2 separate regions of the Homo sapiens genome follow, and region 2 is linked to region 1. The links come from fine-mapping of genetic effects on gene expression. A gene starts in region 1. The other region holds a variant in brackets. All regions are shown on one strand. Distances are from middle to middle.

Region 1 (2,500 bases):
TCTCGATCTCCTGACCTCGTGATCCGCCCGCCTTGGCCTCCCAAAGTGCTGCGATTACAGGCATGAGCCACCGTGCCCGGCCTAGGATAAGCAATTTAAGCGATTTTTCTCTAACATGGGGAAACATCTAAGAATAAGAGAGGGAAGTTCTCTATTTTCCTGAAGCTTTCATACTAGCAGAGAAGACAAATAATAGATACTGCGAAGATAGGATGATTGAAGAATGCAGTGATATAAATTTGGGGGAAGAGGAGGGAGGCAGAGCAAAGAAATTCAAGGCCTTGGCCAGACGTAATGTCTCACACCTTGTAATCCCAGCAGTTTGGGAGGCTGAGGCAGGCTGATAGCTTGTGTCCAGGAGTTCGAGACCAGCCTGGGCAATCCAGCAAAACCCTGTGTCTACAAAAAAATACAAAAATTAGCCAGGCATGGTGGCATGCGCCTGTGGTCCCAGCTACTTGGGAGGCTGAGGTGGGAGAATCGCCGGGACGTCGAGATTGCAGTGAGCTGAGATCGTGCCACTGCACTCCTGCCTGGGTGACAGAGCAAGAACGTCTCAAAGAAAAAACAACAACAACAACAACAACAACAACAACAAAAACACAAGGCCTGTGGTTGGGGGAAGGTTGTAACTCTAAAAAAGACCCATGTGGCTACAGCGAGGGACACTGGGTGTAGGTAGAGATAAGAAGAGTGATACTCAGTTCTCACATCACGGCGGACTGAATACAGGCCCGGGGAGTGAGAGACCATCCACCCCTGTGATCTGGGGCAAGTCACCAGCCCTTTCAGAGAAGCTTCCGTCTTCTCTGCAAAATGGGACAATACCTTGCTTCACAAGCTTGCAAGGATCAAAAGAACTGGTAGTGGGCCGGGCGCGGTGGTTCACGCCCGTAATCCCAGCACTTTGGGAGGTCGAGGCAGGTGGATCACTTACTTGAGGTCACGGGTTCGAGACCAGCCTGGGCAAAATGGTGAAACCCCGTGTCTGCTAAAAATACAAACATTAGCCTGGCGTGGTGGCAGGTGCCAGTGATCCCAGCTACTCGGGAGGCAGAGGCAGGAGGATCGCTTGAACCCAAGGGGTGGAGGTTGCAGTGAGCTGAGATCGCGCGCTGCACTCCAGTCTGGGCAACAGATCAAGACTGTCTCAGAAAAAACAAACAAAAAAGAACTGGTAGAGGAAGCGCTTTGCATACTATCGTTCACAGTATTATTACAAATACAACCATTAGGAAAACATGCAGAGCATAGCCCCGAACTCACGAGCTGCGCCGGCCCGCGCGTGCGCGACAGGCGGGCGGAGCCAGGGCAGTCCAGGCACCGCCTTGACCCGCCCCAGCCTCTTCCCCTTCCCTGTTCCTCCCACTTCCGCGGGCACCCAACTGTGCGTCTCCTGCGCGCTGACGTCAGGTGCGTGCCCCTGTCCGGCAGCCGAGGAGACCCCGCGCAGTGCTGCCAACGCCCCGGTGGAGAAGCTGAGGTGAGTGCGGGGCCCGAGGTTCCCCGCGGGAGCTGCCACCCTACCTTCCCATCCCCGCCGTCTCCGTCCTCTCCCAGTCCTCGGGGACACCCCGTCTGCGGGATCGTGGGGGGCCCGGGAGCACGGGTTGTGGGGGAGTGCCCGGCTCGCGCTGCGTCCTCCGGGCGGGCGCGGGTCCGCGTTCTGTGGGGGAGCCGGGGCGGGGGTCGCGGCCGGGGAGGCAGGGGGCGCCCGTCTGAGGAGGGGCGCGCGGCCGGGGCTCGGGGCGCGAGCGGGACCGGGCTGTCACCGGCAGCGGCGGAAGGAAGGGGGTCACACCCATCCTGGGCGCCCGGGCTCCCCTCCCCCCAGCCCGGCCCGGCGGGCTCCTAAGGGCGGCCGGGGGCCTCAGAGCGACTCGCGGGCGCTTGGGCCGGGCCGGGCGCCGGTCTTCCGTGCTGGCAGGCTGCGTTCCGTGCCCTGCGCTCCGGCCTGGACTTCCTGCTTCGCCGGGCGCCGCCGCGGACATTTTGCGGCGGGGGTGGGGGGGCGGGGGAGGGGAGTGGCGTTGCGGCCGCGGCGGGGCGGTGGCAGGAGGGCAGCTCGCTGGCTGCTCGCGGCGGTGCCTGTCCGAGCTCCCCTCCGCGCCGGCCGCGTCCTCTGGGCGGGGTGGCCCCGAGCCACGGCCTCCAGGCTGCTCTTCCTTTCGGAGGTCGAGTTCCTAGCATTTCCATCCGCTCCTCCAGCCCGCTCCCTGCCGGTTTAGCTGAAGCTTCCCTTTCGGGGAGTTACCTAACTACCTCCCGAAGCCGTCGTTCTGCTGCTTGGTTAATTCCTCTTATCGGGGGGGAATTTTCTTTGTTCGTTTGTTTTTCCTCCCCTTTAAGTCCAAGATAAATGTAGTGTGGAAGATTACGTCATCGCGGTATAAGGAGTGAGACTTAACTCCTACAAGTCAGGGACTTAAATTCAAACAGCATTTTGCAGCCTTAGTCGGTCACCCAGTGGCTTATCCTGCCTGCTTCCCAACACGTCGTA
Region 2 (2,920 bases), 66 kb after region 1:
AGCATCCAGAGCTGGGCTTTATCCAGCCCTAGGCCTCAGGGCATCACCTTTGCCTTGGGACGAGAGGAGAGTGGTTTGGGCAGGATGTGGACCCTCTGGCCAATTTCCAGGCCACGGTGAGGCCAAGAGGGGGTGGGCTATGTAAGGGCTGTGCCAGTTCCCCCTGGGACAGTTTGGAGCTGGGCATGTCCAAAGAAGCTCCTTTTCCTGTGGCTGTGGATTTCTTTGATCTCTGCAGCACTGGCGGTGGTTGGCCTGGGCAGTGGTTCCTAGAATTTGGTCTCATTAACCTAGGTCGCAACCTTCAGAACCCCAGGAAGATCAGCTTTAGGAACTCCCTGGCAGGTGAAAAGGGCAGTTCCCATCATACCAGCATCCAGCCTGGACCTACTGTTCCCTGGATGGGGAGAGTGGCTCAGCTCTTTCCTCTGGGAGGGGAGGGGTCCTCATTGTTCCCTCTTTCTGGGTCTAGCCTCTGCTAGTGAGGCATAGTATTTTTTTTGGGCTTAGTAGACAGCTGAACAGCCAGCCAGGGGAGCAGCGGACCCAGCTGGGCAGCTGTGGCGACAGTTGGATCAGCTTTCATCCACATCAGAGCTGGCCTGCCCCAAGATTATCAACCACATTTGAATGTGGCTCCAGCACCTCACTTGGTTTTGGCTTCCTCCTTGTATGGACATTGAGCAGAGATCTTGGCTGGGGGCCAAGGGTGTTGACCCTCTTTTCATGAGGGAGCCAACACTAGGAGGCACAAACCACAATGCCTGGAGAAGAGTTTCTGCAGGCTGGAGCCCATATTCCGAATCTCGGACGTTGAATTCAGCCACTGAACACAGGAGCCAGGAGCTTGGAGTCTGGGAACCCCAAGTGGGGGATCACAGAGCATAAAATCTCCGACCTGAAACTTAGAGCCCCAGTGTGGGGGCAGTCTGGAAAGTGGGCTTACAGCAACTTCCTCTGGTGATTGGGAGCCCATCTGAGAAGCAGATGGGTCAAGGGCAAGGTCTTGATCCATGCATGTCCTTCTCACAAGCCTGGGCGGGGCTCGTGATGGTTTGGCGGTTGTACAGGGTCAGGCCCAGGTTGCTGGTGCTGTCTCTTGGGAAATCTTGCAGTACCTATGGTACCTGGGACCCCAGGGACTCGGATGTGCTGGGGAGGGGTGCACCACACTGCTGAGACCTCACTGTCAGCCTTCCAGCTGTTCACATCTTTCCTCAGAGCCTGTTCTGCCCTTAGGAACCATGTGGGCTCCAGCTCAGCCTGTGGTCTCTGGCTCCTGCTGCTTCCCTGCCCCTTTTCGTCCAGCCAGAACCCCTGCCCCAGGCTCAGACCCAAGAAGACCTGCAGTTTCTCTACCTTTGGGTACAAGAACCAAGGAGGAGGCTTGGCTGGAGGACTCTTCTGGCCCTGCCTGTCCATCCAGCTTGCTGTGAGAGGTCTGGGGAGCACTGCCGTCTCTGATGTCAGATGGGCATTAGCATTCTTGGTTTGTCTGCTTCCCAGGACTGTTGTGGCCATCAAGTGAGATGGCCTGTACAGGGCCTAGAACACGTAGTATTTGCTCAATAAATTGTGTTGAGTAAGATAATGGGAGAGGACTTTATTGCACAGCCCTTTCCTCCCTCCCTCTCGCAGGTGTGTGTGTGTGTGTTTTCCTTTTTCAGTTTCATGGAGGAACAGTGCTGTGAAAGGTGACTCAGGGGCATGACTGCAAAGGCACAGCCCTTTCCTCCCTCTCTCTCGCAGGTGTGTGTGTGTGTCCGTGTGTGTGTGTGTGTGTGTGTGTGTGTGTGTGTGTGTGT[G/T]TTTCAGTTTCATGGAGGAACAGCGCTGTGAAAGGTGACTCGGGCATGACTGCAAAGGCACAGCCGGGATCCCTGGTCCAGGATGGCAGCCTATATGCCTGCCTAGGTGGGTCTGGGGAGTGGTTAAGTTTCCTCTTCCCAGGGGCAGGCTGGGGCAGGCTGGGTTCTAGGGTGGGACTTCAGTCGTCTCTTGCTCTCATCTCCCTCTTCTTGCCTGGAAGGACCCACAGATATCGAACCTCTAGCTGTCCATGTAAGGGCTGAAATGAACCTGGTGCCCTTGACCTGGTATCTGCTTGTTCCCTTTCTCAGGGCATTTGAGAGACATGGCTTCTAGGCTCAAGCTGCCAGGAGTCCATGTGTATGTGTGCTGGAGAGTTAAGAGTTCTTTTTTCCAGAGGGTGTGACTTCCATCAAGTCGGTACCTATTTTCCCTGCCATAAGGCCCCCTCTTCCCCGATGACACGGTCAGTAGCCATGTGGTGGTAATACTCCTTGTTACTCCACCTTAGGTCTGCAAGTAGAAAAACGGACACAGATAACAACTGAGTGGTCAGTGGCAGCCACATGCGGGCAGCCAGCGGCACGAGCAAGGTCCCTTTGGTCAGTGGCAGCCACAAAGGCCCAGGCTTTGGGGAGGCCCTGGTTGGTGCCCTTGGGGTTGCCTGCCTGGTTTCGGCAATAAATAACATGAGGACCCAAAAACCAAACCAGAACAAAAAATACAACCAGTATCTCTTGGGGTAGGTGGTGGGAGACTGTTTAAATTATCGGCCTTCCCTGGGCCACTAGGTGGTTGCCGGCGCAGGGCTAGGCAGGCGGTCATCGGCACGTGTGCAACTCCACGAGCCGCTGGCACTGCCGGCACTTGACGAAGCAGCACCAGTGGAATTTGCAGCTGCAGCGTTCAGCCAGCTCCACCTGCGCCGTGTGGAAGCCGCGGCCACAGCACAGCAGCTCACAGCCGTCGATGGCCTTGGACGTCTTGTTGCATGTGCGGCCCCTCGTGCCCAGCACGCCGCTGCGCATGTCCTGCTCACAGAAGTCGGGGCTAGGCTCCAAGTACACCAGGTCCTCATCTGTGTGCGGCTTGAACTGTGCGTTGCGTGGCACCA

Which allele goes with the higher level. Positions count from the first base shown, and alleles are read on the strand shown. Sizes are in standard deviations (SD) of each study's normalised expression.
As copies of T replace G in region 2, the expression in monocytes after LPS of the gene that starts at base 1,450 in region 1 goes down (large effect, 1.3 SD a copy in Quach 2016).

The links. PIP is the estimated chance that this variant, and not a neighbour inherited with it, causes the effect.
Region 2: its variant is fine-mapped to the expression of CDC42 in monocytes after LPS (Quach 2016, PIP 0.95).

The regions. Positions count from the first base shown.
Region 1 is chr1:22,051,260-22,053,759 of GRCh38, forward strand. It overlaps CDC42 (cell division cycle 42), which reads left to right and starts at 1,450. Exons shown (of 6, transcript NM_001791.4): 1 at 1,450-1,483. RefSeq lists silencers at 1,539-1,688, 1,749-1,968, 1,979-2,158 and enhancers at 1,871-2,438, 2,439-2,500.
Region 2 is chr1:22,117,423-22,120,342 of GRCh38, forward strand. WNT4 (Wnt family member 4) reads right to left here. Exons shown (of 5, transcript NM_030761.5): 5 at 1-2,920. The coding sequence ends at 2,628. Among named protein-coding and RNA genes, the nearest start is that of WNT4, 24 kb to the right of the region's middle. RefSeq lists enhancers at 646-695, 2,858-2,920 and a silencer at 1,711-1,880. The variant G/T (reference allele first, on the strand shown) is at 1,806.